Linked DNA regions of Homo sapiens. The protein of the gene in region 1 interacts with the protein of each later gene in a pairwise test. Each region holds a gene or a part of one and is shown on either strand. Other genes may lie near its edges.

Region 1 (7,026 bases):
GAGACACAGTGAGAGCGAGACACAGTGAGAGCGAGACACAGAGCGAGACAGTGAGAGCGAGACAGAGCGAGACAGTGAGAGCGAGACAGAGCGAGAGACAGTGAGAGAGCGAGAGACAGTGAGAGAGAGACAGTGAGAGCGAGAGAGAGAGAGAGCAAGAGACAGTGAGAGCGTGAGAGACAGTGAGAGAGTGAGAGACAGAGAGAGAGGACAGTGAGAGAGAAACAGGAGGGGGACAGAGAGACAGAGGAGGGGGAGGGGGGACAGAGAGAGAGACAGAGGAGAGGGAGGGGGGACAGAGAGAGAGGAGGGGGAGGAGGTGACAGAGAGACAGAGGAGGGGAAGGGGGGACAGATGGGGAGGGCGGGAGCGGGGAAGCGTGTGGGAGCGGGGAACTGCCACATGCATTTAAACCATCTGATGTCATGAGAACTCGTTCATGAGACAGCACTGGGGGATGGTGCTAAACCATTAGAAACTGCCCCCATGACCTGATCACGTCCCTCCCTGCCCCTCAACATGTGGAGATTACAATTTGACATGAGATTTGGGTAAGGACACAGCCAAACCATGTCATTCAGCCCCTGGGCCCTCCGAAACCTCATGTCCTTCTCACATTTCAAAACCAATCATGCCTTCCCAACAGTCCCCCCGAAGTCTTAACTCATTCCAGCATTAACTCAAAAGTCCAAGTCCAAAGTCTCATCTGAGACAAGGCAAGTCCCTTCCACCTATGAGCCTGTAAAATCAAAAACAAGTTAGTTACTTCCAAGATACAATGGGGGTTACAGGCATTGGGTAAACAGACCCATTCCAAAAGGGAGAAATCAGCCAAAATGAAGGGGCTACAGGCCCCATGCAAGTCTAAAACCCAGCAGGGCAGTCATTAAGTCTTAAAGCTCCAAAATAACCTCCTTTGGCTCTATGTTTCACATCTAGGCCACACTAATGCAAGGAGTGGGCTCCTAAGGCCTTGAGCAACTCCACATGGCCCTGTGGTTCTGCAGGGTACAGCCCCCACAGCTGCTTTCACAGGCTGGCGCTGAGTGTCTGTGGCTTTTCCAGGCATACAATGCAATCCATAACGGCTCCCCCTTGCAGCAGACTTCTGGACATCCAAGCATTTCCATACATCCTCTGAAATCTAGGCGGAGGCTCCCAAACTCTTGCCTTCTGTGCACCCACAGACCCAACAGCACGTGGAAGCCACCAAGGTTTGGGGCTTGGACCCTCTTAAGCAACAGCTCAAGCTATATCTTGGCCCCTTTTAGCCACAGCTGGAGCTGGAGCAGCTGTGACACAGGGCACTGGAGTCCAGGACCTGATCCACAAAACCATTTTTCCTTGACAGGCCTCAGGGCCTGTAGTGTGGGGGCTGCTGTGAAGCTCTCTGAAATTCCCTGGGGACATTTTCCCCATTGTCTTACCTATTAACATTCAGCTCCTCAACTGCATCTCATTATTGGGCCACCAGAAATAGCAGCCTGACCCTCAGTTTGGTCTAGGAACAATACCTCCAGGCACTTTGTTCTTCCTTTTATAAAAGGCTCAATCCCATTTTATACTCATCCCTTACCCTCCCTACCCACGAGTTCCTCAGGCCACTGAAGACAGTGATTGTCTTCTCCTGGGATGGGGAAAGAGCAAGGCAACACATTGAGCAGGTATTAAATGCCCAAAGGGTGCTACTTCCTACCATTGTTTACCTGGACTGAGTGATTCAGACCCTTGAGCCACATCCTACAATTTTGCCTCCAAAGTTCTGCATTTCTCAAGCAAACTTAAGGGTCCCAATACCATAAATAAAAGTTTGATTCTCAGAAATGACTTTGCTTCTCTTCTTCCAAATCACAACTTCTCACCATGAAAGCTGTGTAAGTGGCCCAGTCAGAAGCCTAAGGGGCCAGGAAAAAGCATAACGAGAGGATGCAAAATGTGGGAGAAGGTTTATTTTGAGCCCAGCTGAATAAAGAAACCTCAGGCCCTGTGTCCAGGGATTTAATATGGGTCCCTCAGAGCAGCATGGCTCTGACTGTACAGGAGCTTCCCCTTGCACTGTCACTAGAGACAACCGGAGGTATAGCAGCCACACAGGTGGAAAGCAAGGAGACATTCTGTCTCACTGGCTAACTCTAGGACGCCGCGAATTATGACCCATAGGTACTACTGCTCTGAGACTTCCCAAAGCAACACCAGACTTTGAACAGTGCCGAGAGCACGGGATGTGCAAGAGAAAGCATTTATGAGAATTTGGGCACACCCACCCTTTACAACTTTTACACTCGATTCTCTCCCAAACACATGACCTCCACTGCTACATGTGGACCTGTATTTTAAAAGTTACAACTTTTAAGCCTTAGTTTTCATATTTGTACAATGTCTACCATGTGAAGTCGTAATAAGGATTAGAAGAGAATACATAGAAAGCCCCTACAAGAGAGTATCTGACATTCAGTAGAGGGTCAGTAAATGGCAGCTAATATGGTATTTGCACTATTTATACCATGTCTAAGGGGGAATCTTACCAATGAGAGATCAGGCTCCTCAGAGCTGAGAGAGCTGAGCTGGCTTCACACCCTGGCCCCAATTTCTATGGCAGCTCCAATTTCAAATGCATTCCACCATTCTCACAGGGACACTGAGGTTTATCCACCCATATGTCCCTTCAGCAACTCAGAAAATATGGTCACTATACCCATACATAGCCTATGAGCCAACTATAAGAAAAAAGTGACTCAATTCAGTAAGCAAAGGATATTACCAAAGACCAGCAAAAATCACATCCAGAGAAAACTCAGTAGACCATCAGCTTCTGAGAGACCAGACCTCAGTTTAAGTTTTTTTTAATACAATATTTTATTTACTACTGGCCTCTGCTACATACAACTTAGCAGAAAGAAAAAGAGAAAAATGATTTTAATTGCATGAGAGCTTGAAGCACCATTTCCTGTTTTGATATCTAGCATATCCAGGTTTCTAAACAGTCCCTGCCTTCTACTGTGAGCTCAGAATGTCCCAAGAATGTAGGTTACTTTTTGATAACGCTAAATTCTCACTTTGCTTAAAACTTAATATACATGAAATCAAGAACTTGGTAAGTCATTGTCCCTAGGGCTAAAAAGGCTACAAAAATGAGGAAACTGGCACCTACCATTAAAGAAGAGCTTATTCTATAGTTAGGAGGCAAGACCTACACAAGTCCCTCACAGCACAAGGAGTAAGTGCCAGGGCACATCTTTGACAGCCAGGCTCACAGAAGGAAAGTGAGAAGAGACTGGATTACAGGGAAGGTTCTAAAGTAGGGAATCAGACTGAGCAGAATTCAGATATTTAGAGAAGAGAGGACACAGCAGAAAGGAGAACGACATTTATGAAGAGCAAAGAGGCAGCTAAAAGAAGGGGTCCATGGAGAGGTATTAGCCTGGACTGGGCTTACACACAGCAAGAGTAAGGCCAGTGCATCTCAACCCTTCCTATGCACCAGCATCCCCTGAGGACCTTCCAGAAATACCAGTGCCTAGGCCCCACACCCAGAGATTACAGTCCACTGATCTAGGGGTGGAAGAGAGAAAACTTAGAGTACTAAAGAAAAAGTGATGGCATTTATTTTTCTTAATTACTTTTCTAGCACACACAAAAAAAGGCAAAGTTGTTTTGGCAGGCTGAATGAGAGGAGAGGAGAGAACTGTTTCACCTTTGGGTGACTAACCCTCCTTTGAGAGAAATAGCTGTGCTTGATCACCTAGAAGCTCTATCTAGAGGAAATAAACTAAAGCCTGCACTCCTCAGAGAATAGCATTGGTAGCTCTAAGACAGAGGAAGGGGCTGCTGGCACAGACCCAGCTATCTTAATCATAGCTTTATTCTTTTTCTCTTCTTTGCATTTTTAAAAATTATTTTATTACCATCCCTACTGATCCTTGTTCTTAAATAAGCGACAACAAAAATGGCATGAAGTAGCAACTCTAATCTTACATGATTATTTGCAGAGGCCAAATGCTCCAAGTTTGAATTGCTTGACTAACACTAATCATAAAAAGCCCTTGCTTTTCACCGTCTTTGTTTTCTTCTTTTTTTTTTTATTGGGGGGATGGGGATAAAGGAAGATACTTTTGTCTTTGGAACCAAAGATCTGAGCCTCAGAGCCCACTACACTTGCCCCCTCCACAGAGGGCCTCCCTCTCACTATGGTATCTACTGAGGAATTCAGTGTATGTACCTTCTCCCCAAATCATTGACTTTATATATCACATCCAAGAAGGAATAAAGGAGCAAGAACTGTCACCACCCTTCTTAGAGGATGAGTCACTTATTTTGTGATCAGTGACCACCCACAGAGTGGGCTGATTTAGAAACTCGTTTGCACTACATGGCACCAAGTGGAGAGTGTTCCTTCTTTTCCCATTTGCCCTAGCTATGGGATGCTGCTTTGCTTTCTCGAGAAAACCATTCTCTCCCTCTCCTCCTAGTTTCACCAGTCTAGATGGACTGAAACTGACTTCAGATGATACCACAGCCAGCTAATAAGTTGAGATCAAGACTGACTCGCAAGCCCTGAGAATAATTTAGTGCTCTTCTAACACAAGACAGTGGGAAAGACTGTCCAAACTGTGTACTAAAGCTTGTACTAAAGAAAACTTTTAAAGGTAGTTGTGGGCAGAAGAGGGGAGGACATTTTCAGGTTTTAGTTTACCCTAGGGGGCAGGATGGGAGGGAAAAGCAGAGGAAGGCGATTCATTGAACCATGTTTCCCAAAGTATATTCTGCAGAAACGTATCTAGTGAATGCTCTAGGGAGCTGGAGTTAAGAATTGAGTAAGGCGTTGTGCTAGGGCTAAAAAGGCCACACCACCTAAACAGTTTATAAAGTGCTACTCATCCACCCTCACCAACTATAGTCACAATGAAAATTGGCATATTAAAGCTTCCAAAGTCCCACAACAAAGAAAAATGTTTCACAAACTTGGTTATGGAATCACCATAACATTTCAGCTGCTTTAAAACTAAGCTGTCTGAAATGGTTGGGTATCCCTTATCCAAAATGCTTGGGACCAGAAGCGTTTCTGATTTCAGATATTTTTTCGGGCTTTGGAATATTTACATATACATAGTGAGATCTTGGGGTGGGACACAAGTCTAAGCACAAAATTTGTTTCATATACACCTTACACACATAGCCTGGAAGACAATTTTATATTTTTAAAATTTTTGTGCATGAAATGAAGTTTGTGTTAAGTACTTTTGTGTGGAAATTCCCACTTGTAGCATCAAGTCAGTGCTCAGGAAGTTTTGGATTTTGGAGCATTTCGGATTTTGGATTTGGGACATCGCCTGTACTAGCCATACGTGGTAACTGAGCATCTGAAACATGGCTAGCGTGAATTCAGATGGGCTGTTAATGTAAAATACATACTGGATTTCAAAGACTTCATACAAAAAAATTGTAAAAGTATCTCAGTTTGTTTTCTGTTTGAGATAGAGTCTTGTTCTGTCACCCAGGCTGGAGTTCAGTGGTGCGAGCCTGCAGCTGGGACCACAGGTGGGTGCCACCATGCCCAGCTAATTTTTTGTGTGTGTGTGACAGGATCTCATTTTGTTGCTCAGGCTGGTTTCAAAATCCTGGGCTCAAGTGATTCTCCCACCTCAGCCTCCCAAAGTGCTGGGATTACAGGCCTGAGCCACCATGCCTAGTTTAAAATTTTTTTTTAAATATTGATTATATGTTGAAATGATAGTATTAATATTTTGGAAATAAGGGGTTAAATAAAATTATTAATATTTCACTTGTTTCTTTATACTTTTTCATATGGCTACTAAGAAATGTAAATTACATATATGGCTGCTCACATCATATTTCTACTGGACAGCACTCTTTTAGAAAATGCTAAGCCATAACACAGGCTTGGAAACTTCAGATATTTCTTATCATCTTGGTATCTGTGCCATATTTTTCACCTGAAAGAGAAGTACTATAGCACAAAACTTGGGAATGGTTCAAAAAAGATGTAAAAAGCATCTGGGCATTCAAACTAGGATTCATAAGATAGCCAACCTAACATGAAAATTCCATAGGTATCAAGGAATGAGGTCTATGTTTCTTACAAAAGATGAACACCTTTCGTTTTTTGTCTTGTCAATAATCCCTAGGACAGGCACGATGGCTCAAGCTTATAATCTCAGAACTTTGAGAGGCTGAGGTGGGAGGATCGCTTGAGGCCACTAGTTTGAGACCAGCCTGAGCAATACAGGAAGCCCCATCTCTACAACAAATTAAAAAGGGCCAGGCGTGGTGGCTCACGCCTGTAATCCCAGCACTTTGGGAGGCCGAGGCGGGCAGATCACAAGGTCAGGAGATCGAGACCATCCTGGCTAACACGGTGAAACCCCCATCTCAACTAAAAATACAAAAAAAAATTAGCCAGGTGTGGTGGTGGGTGCCTGTAGTCCCAGCTGCTTGGGAAGCTGAGGCAGGAGAATGGCATGAACCTGGGAGGCGGAGCTTGCAGTGAGCCGAGATTGCACCACTGCACTCCAGCCTGGGCAACAGAGTGAGACTCCGTCTCAAAAAAAAAAAAAAAAAAAAAAGTTAGCCAGGCTTGGTAGAAGGCGCCTATAGTCCCAGCTACTCAGGAGGCTGAAGTGGGGGAATTGCTTGAGCCCAGGAGGTCGAGACTGCAGTGAACCGTGGTCAGGCCACTGCACTCCGATATGAGTTACAAAGTGAGACACTGCCTCAAAGACAAAAAAATCCCTTAGATATTTATGGAACAATAGAGAACTGTTTCACTTTGCCTTTCTCTCCATGACTATGTCTGTAAAGCTATTCCTAAATAGGAATAACTTAGAATGAACAATTTTCATGCTAAAGATTGAACAAATTTCAGTAACTGAAATCACTATGTGCACTCAGCACCCATAAAGGCAAAAAAAGTTCCTTCAGGGATTCCCCAAGAGGGTGCTGCTCAAGGCCAACTTAGTTATATATTAATAGTCATTGTTCTATAATAGATTTCATTATCCCTCACTC
Region 2 (7,244 bases), on another chromosome or scaffold:
GTGGCCAGGATGACAGCAGTTCCGAAGATGCCCACACTCTCTCCAAGGAGCTTCATCTGGTTCCAGAACTCAACACGCCGCGTGTTGTGCCAGTAAGCAACATTGCCATCAATGAGCAGCATGACAGGGGGCAGCAGTACAGCCAGGATCTGGGCAGCGAGGGTCACGTAGTAGCCTGACAGAAAGGCCAGGGCCAGGATGCCATACAGCACGAAGAACAGCTGGATCATCAGCTCCCCTCCTGGGAGATGGTTCAGATACGCCAGCCGGTCCTCCTTGCTGTGCTGCAGTGAGTAGGCCTGGAGACATAACATCCTCTAAGACTCTCCAACAGGCTCAGAAGCCTGTCTGGGGTAAACCACCCCTGAGATGGCACCTGCAAATGAGTCCCTGCAGATGGGCTTCTGACTCCCCTCTTGGACTGGGGAACCTCTGAAAGTAGGGCCTTTGTCTCCCCCTCGGACTATGGAGCCCCAGGAGATTAGGGCCCATGTCTCCCCTCACCCTAGGGGCTATGAAGGAAGTGTATTTCCACAGTCAGACTAGAGCTCCCACCTCTGAATATGGGAGCCCACACAGAGAGCTGTACAGAGATATACTCGGTAATTAAGATAAGACCTAATGGCCTGGCGCCTGTCCATGTCTCCAGTCACCCTGGCCTCCCCTAGCACCAGGGAGAACCATAAGTGGCTACCCTAGAGCTCTCATCAGCTCTAGGGGGCAGAGTCCCAGCTGGGGCCTGACCCCCACCAAACCTCTCCTTTATCCCCTTCTAGTCCTTTGGGGGCTGGAGCCATGAGAGAATCACCCCATCTTGTTCTCCTGGCTCTCAGGGTTGAAATTTAATGGCCAGTCTACCTCGTGGCAACACTGTTGGAGGAAGGGCCTCTCAACAGGCATTTGGAGGGCCCCTGAGGCCTAGAAGCTGGCCAGGGCAATTCCCAGGGAACTGGGCCATCAGGAACTGCACTCAGGGCCTCGTTCTGTGTCTACCTTCCTGGGGTTCTGCCATGCCTAGACTCACAGTTCACTCCCAGCCAGGCACCTCCAACCAACAGTCCCCCAACATACCACACAGATGAGGTAGATACCCAGGAACACCTGGCCGGTGGACTGCAGGGAGCGGCTGCGAGGTTTCCGGCGGTACAGCTCCCCAGCACCGCTGGCCAACACAAGAAAGCCGCCGATGATGGCAACTGTGCGCGAGTACATACGGACCTAGGCCGGGGTAAGGGGACCCCAGTCAAGAACTGCAGCCGCCACATCTCTCCTGGCTTCCCAGAGTGTAGAACCACCCCTCTCTACACATCCCATTCCATCTGATGAACCCTCTTACATTTCCAAGCTTGGTGGGCAGGTGCAACAGAGACAGATCATTCTTTTTATATATATATAGAAGTAGAAACTGAGGCCCAGAGGGTTAAGAAAACTGTCAGGTCTGGCCAGGCGCAGTGGCTCACGCCTGTAATCCCAGCACTTTGGGAGGCCGAGGCAGGTGGATCACCCTGAGGTCAGGAGTTTGAGACTAGCCTGGCCAACATGAGGAAACCCTGTCTACTGAAAATACAAAAATTAGTCGGGCGTGGGGAAGGGCGCCTGTAATCCCAACTACTTGGGAGACTGAGGCAGGAGAATCGTTTGAACCTGGAAGGCGGAGGTTGCAGTGAGTTGAGACAGCGTCACTGCACTCCAGCCTGGGCGACGGAGAGAGACTCTGTTTCAAAAAACAACAACAAAAAAGAAAACTGGCAGGTCCTACCTGCCAGTAAGTGGCAGAACCCAGACACAATGTGTTTCTCCCTTCCCCACTCTCAGATCTGTAGACTCTAATCTTGGTGTTCTTTATTCTACATGGCATGGGATCTATGCCACAAAAACATTGATCTTGCTGCCCTGTAGCTGTTCACACATCTTCCTCCCCTAAGGGTCTGACAGTCTCTTCCTCAAGGACAGTGCCTTTGTCCAACCTTATCTCCAGCCTGCAGGGCCTGGCACAGGTTCTGGCTTAAATGCTATACTAACAGTAATTACATTTTCATAAAATTTATTTTATGAAAACTAGGTACTCTCCAAGGTCCTTTGTACCCCATGAGTCTGAGATTACTAAACTAACAGTTTAAAAGATTCTGGGAACCAGGTGACCGGGGTTCTGGTCCCACCAGTATCCTGTATTGTGGCTTTGGGAAAGTCTGTTTCCCATCTCTAGACCTCAGTTTCCACACTTTGAAGAGGAAGTTTGTGTGGTCTCTAAGATCCATTTCTGCGCTCTGTAATCTCCATAAGCCAAGGGGTTCGAACCTCCCAGGCTTCACACTGTGCAGCTGGCCAGCACCATTCATCGCCCACCAACAGCCCTGGGCATTGGCCTCTGATTCCCCGTCACCCAGAGGGAAGACCCTTTTGGGGCCGAGGCGCTCACCTTCAGCCAGTCCCCGTAGTGGACGTAGCCCCCGATGTAGGCGGCGTAGGTGCTAATGGCCAATTGGAGTGCGGCCCCCAGCGCGAACCAGCGCCGCTTCACGCCAAAGGACATGAAACTAGCGCACAGCACGGCTGCCCCCATGTCGAAATACAGGTAAGGCACTGGGATGTCGGGCTTCCTGCGAGCCGGGAGTGGGGAAGCAACGAGGACAGAATGAAGCGGTGGGGGAAGAAGCTTGAGACCCCTTGAGTTCCCACAGGCTCCACTGCTCCCCCAAACCAGACTCCCCTCCCATGGGCAGGACCGCCCTACCAGATTTGGTCCGACACCCAGACCAGAACCCCTCCCAGGGAGGTCCCAATTCCTCCCAGTTCAAGGGTCCCGACTTCTAGCCCCCAATTTCTTGCCCACATCACCGCCCCCTGCCGCGTTTAGCGGCTGCGTAGGCCTGCTCACCGGCGTGCCTCAGCCCTCTCAGCGTACAGCATGAGCTGGCTGAAGCAGCCCCAAAAGGGGCAGCGTGTGAGCAGCACCGAACCCAACTGCATGATCAGCTGCAACATCCACCGTCTCGAACCTATCTTCGACGCCATCTTGGGAAAGGGCAGTCCGCTGCGGCCTCACCCCAGTCAGAGAAGCAGGCGCGGGGATGGGACACGCAGCTTCCGGGTCAAGCGCTTTTTCTTTTTCCTCCCGGAAACAACGGTGTCATTCTCTAGTTCCGGATCTAAGGTGACCCAGTTGCGAAGTCCAGCCTTCTCGTCTGCTCATGGAGCCTTCAGGGCCATATTTGTCCCTGCGAATTTGAAAACTAGACTAGAGGAAGGAACAGTGGGTTCAGGATAGCAGAAGTCTTGGACCGTAGTATGATGTATTGAAGCAAACTGGTCTTTGAATGCAGCCCGATCAGGGCCCTAATCCTGATTCCAACCCTGTGTGATTCTGGGCACATCACCTAAACTTTATGAGACTCATCATGAAATGGGGATAATTACACCTACCTCAGAGTTGTGAACTTTTTTTTTCTTTTTTTTTTGTTTTGTTTTGTTTTTGAGACGGAGTCTCACTCTGTCGCCTAGGCTGGAGTGCAATGGCACGATCTTGGCTCACTGTAACCTCCGCAACCTGGGTTCAAGCGATTCTCCTGCCTCAGCCTCCTGAGTAGCTGAGACTACAGGCTCTCGCCACCACGCCCGGCTAATTTTTTGTATTTTTAGTAGAGACGGAGTTTCACCGTCTTAGCCAGGATGGTCTCGATCTCCTGACTTCGTGATCCGCCCGCCTCGGCCTCCCAAAGTGCTGGGATTACAGGCATGAGCCACCGCGCCAGGCCAGAGTTGTGAACTTTAAATGTGACAAGGTCGGTCCTAGTACATAGTAGTGGTTCAATAAATGATACACATAACGCACCAGAGGAAACCCCCGTTTCTGTTAAGATCAAAGTAAGGGGTCCTCCTGGCTCAAAGTCACCTCTTTGGGTTTGCCTTTTGCCTGTGCCCTGAGAGAAAAAGGAGATCTGAACATCTGGGACATCTCAAGTCAGTCCATTTCTCCAGCTGCCATGCTCCCGCTGTAACCCAAATTGTCATACTTTGTCAGTTTAATTGCAGCAGACATCCAGGTGGTCTCTGCATTCCCCTCCAGTGTGTTCTCAGCCCCTTCTCCCACGCCCCACCCGTTTATATGTTCTCATAACATCAGCTACCTTCCTTTGAATCACTTGGCACGGTGGCAATTAGATAGATAGATAGATATAGATACACACGCACACACACACACACACACATATATATATATCTGCTTTACATATATATGCTTTTTTTTTATTTTTGAGACAGGGTCTCACTGTGTCACCCAGGCTGGAGTGCAGTGGTGCGATCTTGGCTCACTACAGCCTACACCTCCCAGGTTCAAGCGATTCTCCTGCCTCAGCTTCCCAAGTAGCTGGGATTACTGGCGCTTGCCACCACACCCGGCTAATTTTTATTTTTAGTGGAGACAGGGTTTCACCATGTTGGCCAGGCTGCTCTCGAACTCCTAACCTCAAGCGATCCAACCGCCTTGGCCTCCCAAAGCGCTAGGATTACAGGCGTGAGACACCGCACCCAGCCAATATATTTGTGATTGTTTTATTGACAATCTTCCCCTACTAGATCGCAAGCTCCCTAAGCACAAACACGGTGCCTGGGTTTCTGTTTACTGTTTACAGATGCTCCTTGACTTGTGATGGAGTTATATCCTGATAAACCCATCATAGGTTGAAAATACTGTAAGTTGAAAATGTGTGGCTGACTGGAAGCTGTGGCTTGCTGACACTGCCCAGCATTGTAAGAGAAATACAGTTTCCACTGAATGCAGATCTGCTTTCGCACCAATGTAAAGTTGAAAACTCCAATGCTGGGAACCATCTGTAGTATACAGGATGCCCTCAGGACCTAGTATACAGGATGCCCTCAGGAAATATGTGCTGTACAGATAAATGAAAAGGTGTTGGGCTGGGCGCGGTGGCTAACGCCTGTGATCCCAGCACTTTAGGAGGCCGAGTCGGGTGGATCACGAGGTCAGGAGTTCAAGACCAGCCTGGCCAAGATGGTGAAACCCCGTCTCTACTAAAAATACAAAAATTAGCCAGACGTGATGGCTGTAATCCCAGCTACTCCGGGCGCCTGTAGTCCCAGCTACTTGGGAGGCTGAGGCAGGAGAATCGCTTGAACCTGGGCGGCGGACCTTGCAGTGAGCCGAGATCACGCCACTGCACTCCAGCCTGGGCGACAGATTGAGAGACTCTGTCTCAAAAAAAAAAAAAAAATTCCCACCAGGCCGGGTGTGGTGGCTCACGCCTATTATCCCAGCAGTTTGGGAGGCCAAGTGGGGGGTTGGATCACCTGAGGTTAGGGGTTCGAGACCAGCGTGGCCAACATGGTGAAAACCCATCTCTACTAAAGATACAAAAAATTAGGCTGGGCACGGTGGCTCATGCCTGTAATCCCAGCACTTTGGGAGGCCAAGGATCACGAGGTCAGGAGATCGAGACCATCCTGACTAACACAGTGAAACCCCGTCTCTACTAAAAATACAAAAAAAATTAGCCAGGAGTGGTGGCAGGCGCCTGCAGTCCCAGCTACTCGGGAGGCTGAGGCAGGTGAATAGCGTGAACACAGGAGGCAGAGCTTACAGTGAGCCGAGATCGCGCCACTGCACTCCAGCCTGGGTGACAAGGTGAGACAACATCTCAAAAAAAAAAAAAAAAAAAAAAAGCCAGGCATGGTGGGAGGCACCTGTAATTCCAGCTACTTGGGAGGCTGAGGCAGGAGAATTGCTTGAATCTGGGAGACGGAGGTTGGAGTGAGCCAAGTTCGCGCCATTGCACTCCAGCCTGGGCGACAAGAGCGAAACTCTTGTCTCAAAAAAAAAAAAAAATTCCCAACCAGCCAGTGAAAGGTGGGCAATAAAACCCCTTTTCACATTTCATTTTAAACCGGCCACTAGGGTCGGGCATGGTGGCTCACACCTGTAATCCCAGAACTTTGGAAGGCAGAGGCACGGGTGGATCACTTGAGGCCAGAAGTTCGAGACCAGCCTGGCCAACATGGCAAAACCCCATCTCTACTAAAAATTAGCTGGGCATGGTGGCGGGAGCCTGTGATCCCAACTATTCAGGAGGCTGAGGCAGAAGGATCGCTTGAACCTGGGAGGAGGTAGTTGCAGTGAGTCGAGATCGCACCACTGCACTCCAGGCTGGATGACAGAGCAAGACTCTATCTCATAAATAAACAAACACAGTCACTAGGATAAGGTCTGGGTAAATCAGAAAGACCATGAGAAGCCAGGCATGGTGGCCCACATCTGTAATCCAGCTACTCAGGAGGTTGAGGCAAGAGGATTCCTCGAGGAGTTTGAGGCTGCATTGAGCTATGATTGCACTACTGCACTCCACCCTGGGTGACAAAGCAAGACCCCCATCTCTAAAAAGTAAAAAAACACGAGAGAGGAACATATAGATGCAAAGAACTAGGGAATGAGATTGTATACGTGTATGTTGGAGGGTGGGGAGGTCTCTAGGCAAGGAGAATGAGAAAAAGTCTGGGTTAAAGGTAATTTTGTCTATCTCTACCCACCAGTGACAACCACACAAAACAAATTTCCTTTACCACAATATAGGCACATAGTACAGAATCAACTTTCCAGTTGGTTTTATTTTTCCAGTCTCCTCACCTCTCCGTTTCAAATGGCTGAGGTGTACAGCCCTAAAGTGTTGACGAGGACCAGAACCAGGATTGTGTACAACATGTCCATAAAATAGTCCTAGGAGTCTGCCTGGGTTGTCCCTATAGGCACAATGCCCCACCCTCCCATCATAACCTTAGCAAGCAGTTTCCAATCAAGTCTCCAGCAGCAGTGGCCAGGGACTTGTGTCAGGGGGAGGGGAAGATTGGATTGAGGAAGCTTGCCTTGGTACCCACTGCGCCCCTTCTCAGGGCTGAAGTCCCTCTCTACCTTTTCCTGCTCTTTCCTCTTTCCCAGAGGGATACTGAGAAGGGAAGGACCTGGGGCCAAATCCTCATTTCTAGGGTTGGGACAGATGCTGGCATGCTATCAGGCCAGAAGAGGGGGATGGGTGGGTGGCCTGGCCCCTGAGAAATGAACACAGCCATTTGTCCCTGTGGTCCCCCCACTCCCAGTTCCTCCTACCCCTGCCTAGTGTTCTGTGCGAGAGACGAGTGAGGGGAGAAGAAAAGGCACACATACAATACCTTTAAGGGTAAACAAGCTTTATCCCACATAAATGGCAATGCAGATATAATAAGCAAATGATATAGTA
Region 3 (6,972 bases), on another chromosome or scaffold:
TAACTTTATAGTATGATATCCATTTTTAATTCGATGATTACTCAGACTTTATCTGAGTTTTGACAAGTGCATATACCTTTGTAACCAAAACTCCTATCGACAGAACATCACCATTATCCCAGGAAGTTCCCTCTTGCCATTTCCAAGTCAATCTCCATCCCCAAGAGGCAACTATTGTTCTGATTTTTTCCCATCAGTCTGTCCTAAGACTTCATATAAATGGAACCAAACAATATCTACTCTTTGTTGTAAGACATCTCAGCATGTTTCGAGATTCATTCACGTTGTACGGATCATTACCTTGTTCCTTTTTATTTCTAAGAAGTGTCCTCCAAGTATATGAATATATCGCAGTTTTTAAATCTAGTTTTCGTTAATGAACACCTAGGCTGTTCCCTTTATTTATTTATTTATTTTTGGCTCTTATGAATAGCTGCTGTGAACATTCTTGTACCAAAAAAAAGACAATTATTACTGCTCCAAAGGACAGCTGTATTCCCTGTATAATTCATTATTTTGCATTCTACCGGAAGTACTGATAAAATATTTGCAGGGAAACTTCCTGGAACATGATTTAAATATGTGGTTTAGTAGATATGAGGGGTGGGTGGGTGGGCATTCTCGTCCTATAAAAAATTGCTTGCATGCATTTGAAATCATGTGGACTGAAGAGACGAAAATAACTTCTATTATTTGTTCACTCACTGCTTTTCTCATACAGCTGATATTCACAAGCTCATACTGTTATCTGTTCTTTCCTGGGAGATTGGATCAAAGTTGCATAGATTCTAGCGGACTAAATATTTGTGAAATTAATTTTGCCAATTCTCATGACTCTAAGAACTCTTTTACACCTTCCAAAGAAGTTTCATAAAGTCCTTGCTTCTGCCTGCAAACTGTCCCAGTTGCCCCATTCTGGCCTGAGCAGTGCAGCCTTAATCCCAGAGGGCCTGCGCTACCGTTACTGGGCCTTCATGCTCCCCTCCCTTGGCTCTGGTTTTGCTCTTCCATAGGGAGCACAAAGTGTACTCTCCATAATGAGGCTGAGCTGTTTACGTGCTAGAACTCCCATTTAGAACACTGGAAAAAGCCAACATTATATCTTTGGCCAACTATTTAACCTTATTTCTTTAGCTATTAAATTGAAATAATAACCATATGTTTTAAAAAGCTTTTAAACCCAGAGCTAAAGACTCTGTATTAAAAACTGGACTTACGGCCGGGCACGGTGGCTCACGCCTGTAATCCCAGCACTTTGGGGAGGCTGAGGAAGGCAGATCACTTGAGGTCAGAAGTTCAAGACCAGCCTGGCCGACATGGTGAAACCCCATCTCTACTAAAAATACAAAAAAACTAGCCGGGCCTGGTGGCGTGAGCCTGTATTCCCAGCTACTTGGGAGGCTGAGGCAGGAGAATCACTTGAACCCGGGAAGCAGAGGTTGCAATGAGCTGAGATCGTGCACCGCACTCCAGCCTAAGCATCCAGCCTAGGCAACAGGGTGAGACTCTCAAAAAAAATTTTTTTTTAACTTATTCTCCTATGTTAATCCTATGTTAGTCTTCTTCCAGAACTCTAGTGATGGGATCACTACCCATCCACAACCTCCAGTCACCTCCAAGACACCTTTGACGCCTCCACTTTCCCAGTCAACCCAACACCAAGCCTCATCGACTTCATTTCCTAAACCCCACTCGAATCCATCCAGTCCTCTCCGTATCCACTGTCACCACCGTCAGTTTAAAACATCGACCACCTCGTTTGGATTCCTGCCAGTCTCCTAACTCGGCTTGAGCCCTGGCAACCAGTTCCCACTGCACTGCGGTCACTACACCCAGGACCTTCCTCACCTTAAATAAAACTGCCCCGAGATTAAAGATCTACACCTTCGCCAGGCCAAAAGGCCCTTCCCACCTCTCCAGTTTCTTCTTTATGCCTAGGCCACACTGGCCATTCGGTTTTTGAAATACAGTACTCTCGTCCTTGGTTTAGGAAACGCCAGATCCTTAGCGCATTCTTCTGATTACCTTCCAAACTAAGCCAGTTCTCCCATCCCTCCCCCAATTTACTGAGCTTAACACTGAATGCTTCTACAGTCCAGTTGACCTTTCCTTTAAAACATTCATTACAATTACAGTTTTGTGATGATCTTAGCACTGCTGTTCTCCATCACTAGACCGTAAACTCTACGAAGCAGGAACAAAATGGACTTATTCGTTACTGTGTTGTGCCTGACAGAATGAATAGTAGTCGATTTTCAGATTCTTCTCTCCATCCTCTACTTTTCTAAGACTTAGGCCTTTCACAACACGTACTTGAAACTGAGACTTCTCAGTAAGAGAACTTCGTTTACTTGGTTCAAGTCTTAAGCCACGGAGCCCACTAAATGACAAATGAGAAAAAAAATCCCAGTCACTTCGCGACCTTCCCCCATAAGGCCTCCTCCCGCAACAGCAGGCAGCAAGAACAACGCATTTGTCCAGCATGTCCTGCGCAGGCGCCCTTCGCCTGGCTCGCTCTGCCCCACCTGTGCCAGGCAGTAAGCCGCAAGAGCACTTCCGGGAGCCCCCGACCCGGTTGTTGGTAAGTCGGCGGCGACGCCCACCTGCAGAACGGGACCGGCGGAGCGCCAGGGCTAGAGACGGGACGTAGCGACGTACTGCGTGCGTGCGTGCGCACAAACGAGGGCGCGCATGTCGGGACGGAACTAGAAAAGCTCAGTGGGGCTGGCGGCAACTCTAGGTCTAACATCCCTCGGAAGTTCGTGCAGCGGCCTCGCTGAAAATGGCTTTACAGCCCGGCAGAACCCTCCGACTCCGCAGCAGGACCTGCGGAGCCTCTCCGCCCTCGGTACCGGCGGGACGGGGTAGCCCTGACCTTCCGGGTGCCTCCTCCACAGGGGCGCCCCCTAAGGCCACGCCCTCCCGATGCCGGTCCGCGCACCGCTCCGCACGCCTCATATTTAGCATTACCTGTGCTGGGGCAAGCGATTGACATACTGTAGCGGACGCAAGTACAGCGGATCTGCGGCGAGTCCCCTTCGCTCTCCGTAGTGGGCGGGGCTTCACCCCGCGTCCTTTAAAGGAAAGGTGATGGGCGGAGCCACGTTTTTCTACTGTTGGGATTCAGTTCCGCCGACAGAAAATGCGGAGAACGCGGAGGAAGTCCCTGAGGGGAAATTGCTGCTCACCTGGCTCCCGCTGCTCCGCAGGTGCGGTGAAGGCTAATGTCGAATTTCTGCAGCAATCGGAGCAGCCCTTACTCCAGTTACATTAACACCAATCTCGGTCTCCCACTAGGGCTTTATAAATTGCTTTCATAAACGTCTTTTTAATGTAACACTGAATAAAATGTTTTATAAGCGTCTTTTATAAGGATCGTAAGTGAAAGGGCGCTGTCTCCGATTTGCAGGTGAGCAGACAGCTTCGGAGTGAGAACGGCTCCCCGCGGGTCCCCGGTGGCGCGCGGCTCCCGGAGGCAAAACAAAGCTGGGGCCGGGGCGTCGGAGCCTCCGCGTTGTAGTTGGGAGAGGTTCGAACGGGGCCCCAGCTGGCGAAAGGGAAAACGGACCCGGACCCGGACCCGTGGAGCCTGCTCGAAAGCCGGGTGCTGGGGGTCTGGGCCCCGTGTCCCCCCTCTTTTTCTTCTTCAATAAGAAATTCCTCAAGGGCAGACTGCGAGTCCACAGTCGTGAAGCCACCTAATCTGGCTTCATACCTGGAATGTTTGGATTCCTGGTACGAAGAAAAACTAACATTTATTGGCTACTTGTCCACTGGAAGGCGTTGTCTTATTTCTCATTAACTCCTTGAGTCAGCATTACGTCTTTTATTACAGATGACACAACTACTAAAGCTTTAAATAGTTCTTTGGGAGCAAAGACGAAATCTCCATTTCCTTTTTAGCTGCTGGTAGCTCGACGCTCACTGTTAAAATAGGGAGGTAATGAAACAACTCTTGTGTGAGACCGAAAGTCCAGGTGTGCATCTTGGCCATTTCCAAGTTAATCAAGAAGAATTAAGGATTCATTTTATTCTATCAAAATTATTTCTCAATGCCAAGATATTTTGTGTGACGTAGATTCGGGGACAGACTGAGTAGCACAATACCTGGGAAAAGTTAGGTGCTCAGCAATTATAATTGCCCACATTTGTGATTGCTTTTGCCTATGTGCCAGACACTGTTCTACGCACTGAACATATCTCAAGTTATTCAATCTTCAGGACAACCTTATGAGCCAATTATTATTATTACCCATTTTACAGATGAGGGAACTGAAACAAATTTGCCCAAGGTCGCACAACTAGTAGCAGAATCAAGAATAAAAAAGCCAAAAAACCCCAAACCCAGGCAAACTTTAAATGTTCCTTGCATTGCTAGACTGAAGTAGTGAGAGAAACAGTAAACAGTACGAGTCCATGAAAACATTAAAAGGATGTGAAGTATGTACAAGTAACTGAAACATTTAATGCCCAAACTAAAGACTTAAAATTTGCTAAGGTAATAGCACAGGTAGATTCACACCAAGTAATCACTGGTAACTGAAGCTACCGGCCAGCATCCATTTGCAGTCCGTCTTTGAAGGCAGCTGTGTCCAGAGCAGGTGGTTTAGGAAGCTTTCTAGACTTCCATTGTCAGATGTCTCCACGCCTAGAAGATGGTGCTTTAGTGTTCCTGGGAGGAGACATGCAGAGATGGGGTGGCAATTACAGACATGCCCACAGATGGAGAGAAGCCATTTTTTTCATCTTTTCCCTTGAACTCTTCTTTGACCTCCAGCCGAAATGGAGCTTGGCAGCTTTTGTGGGGTTTTTTGTTTTTTTGTTTTGTTTTGTTTTGTTTTGTTTTTGGAGATGGAGTCTCTCTGTGTCGCCCAGGCTGGAGTGCAGTGGCGCGATCTCGGCTCACTGCAACCTCCACCTCGCGGGTTCAAGCGATTCTCCTGCCTCAGCCTCCCGAGTAGCTGGGATTATAGGCGCGTGCCACTGGGTCGGGCTAATTTTTGTATTTTTAGTAGAGACGGGGTTTCACCATATTGGCCAGTCTGATCTCGAACTCCTGACCTCAGGTGATCCACCCCACTCGGCCTCCCAAAGTGGTAGGATTACGGGTGTGAGCCACCACGCCCGGCCACTTGGAAGCTTTTAAAGAGTCATTGAGAGCCTTGAGCTGTGCTTGGTGGGGGCAGACTTTGAAGATCCTTGAATAAAGATGAAGAGGTTTGGGGAAATGCTATTACTATGCCACAGATCTTTAATAAACTACTCCGTTATGTACATAGAAGAGGACTCTGAGACATGTGTAGAGCTTTCCCAATTGTTATCGTTTCTACATATAATTTAACCCCCTCAAAAAATGTAACTCAATAAGACTCAAATCATGGTGACTCTAAAAATGCCTATATTTTCTATTACATAGTAATTTCTACGTTAATTTCCATAGCATGCCCATGAACTTTCTCTTTCAATGAATATATTGGTGATTTGCTCTGATGAAGGAATAATGGAAATATCCCGTCCCTCTCTTTGCCTGTTAGCTTTCCAAGTCCTCCCACTTTTCCCCAACGCCGAGGGGACCTTCCAAAACAGGATTGTATGTGAGATTTACTTGCTTAGCCCAAGGTCATTGAGGTACAACATATCTGATCCACAAAAGAATCAGTCTGTGGGTGATTTCTTTAAAAAGTTATGAACACTGGGCTGCGTCTTTATAATGCCACAATGACTAACAATTCATTTAAAAATCTAATACTAATAAAAATCCTGGTGGTGGTTGTTTTTTTGTTTTGTTTGTTTGTTTTTTGAGACGGAGTCTCACTCTGCTGCCGAGGCTGGAGTGCAGTGGCACCGTGTCGGCTCTGCAACCTCCGCCTCCTGGATTCAAGCAGTTCTCCTGCCTCAGCCTCCCAAGTAGCTGGGATTATAGGCACCCACTACCACGCCTGGCTAGTTTTTATATTTTTAGTACAGACGGGATTTCACCATGTTGGCCAGGCTGGTCTCGAACTCCTGACCTCAGGTAATCCACCTGCCTCGGCCCCAAAAAGTGCTGGGATTACAGGCATGAGCCACCATGCCCAGTCAAAATCTTGGGTTTATTTTGAAGATACGAAGCATCTTCAAACTTTAAAGCCCATGTGGGTTCAGATATTCAGCATATTCTTTAACAAATAATTGTTCATAGATTAGATACTCCTCCCTCTCCAGATTATAAACTCTTACCTGGGCAGTTTTGCTAAAATTGGGGGAATTTAAGTCTATTATGTGTGAGATCCTATGTAGTGCCAACTAAATGTAGCTGAGAGCAGTTATCTTAAACAGCAGCAACTCTGTCATTACAAGGCCAGTTTAATAGCCAAAAGGGTCCATGCTCTCCTTAGTTGATGTTTACAGACTTGTCAAGAGTCATAGAAACAAGGCATGCAAGAGGCTTTGGCTGAGTGTTAGGTAACTCGTTCAAAGCTTCCTGAAGATACTGTCAGCCCAATATTGTGTGTCTATTATTGTCTGTTAGAAACTATTAAAGCCGAAAGCCTTCTTATGAAATCTCTACCATTTTCCTCAGGCAGGACTATAATTAATCCATTCCAAACATGTAAAACATCTCTATATTTAAAACAAGCCAAAACAAAACTCGAGGCCAGGAGATTTAGCTTCTCATTTCAATGTTTTATAAGACGGGAGTCTTTTCCTTTACATAACCTAAATCCATCATGTTGCTACTTAGTCTGGTTCTGCAGTAGAGCTGGAGAACATCTGGTGACCACATCTGTGTTATAACCCTTTGTGTGCTCTCAAACTATTTGCTAGATTCAAAATAAATTTCCTTACCATGAGTGAGATTTCCCATAACATTAGACTCCAGATTAATCATTTCTCTTGTCAGAATATGATGGCCTCAGTTATTAAAACGTGGTGGTTGTGAATCAGCAAAATGTCTAAAATGAATGACATATTGTAATAAAGTTTTAAAAA

What was found. Proteins that work in one complex are often made in the same cells at the same time.
Region 2: the proteins of TMEM243 (region 1) and TMEM101 interact in binary tests that used the Homo sapiens proteins (3 or more experiments, as listed by UniProt).
Region 3: the proteins of TMEM243 (region 1) and MTIF3 interact in binary tests that used the Homo sapiens proteins (3 or more experiments, as listed by UniProt).

What each region holds. Positions count from the first base shown.
Region 1 is NC_000007.14:87,209,712-87,216,737, forward strand, and holds part of TMEM243 (transmembrane protein 243), read right to left. Parts: intron 1-7,026.
Region 2 is NC_000017.11:44,011,938-44,019,181, forward strand, and holds the start of TMEM101 (transmembrane protein 101), read right to left. Parts: upstream 3,027-7,244; 5' UTR 3,016-3,026; coding exon 2,879-3,015; intron 2,601-2,878; coding exon 2,420-2,600; intron 1,219-2,419; coding exon 1,072-1,218; intron 300-1,071; coding exon 1-299. UniProt on the Homo sapiens protein: May activate NF-kappa-B signaling pathways.
Region 3 is NC_000013.11:27,447,539-27,454,510, forward strand, and holds the start of MTIF3 (translation initiation factor IF-3, mitochondrial), read right to left. Parts: upstream 3,027-6,972; 5' UTR 2,971-3,026; exon of another isoform or gene 2,314-2,970; intron 1-2,313. UniProt on the Homo sapiens protein: IF-3 binds to the 28S ribosomal subunit and shifts the equilibrium between 55S ribosomes and their 39S and 28S subunits in favor of the free subunits, thus enhancing the availability of 28S subunits on which protein synthesis initiation begins.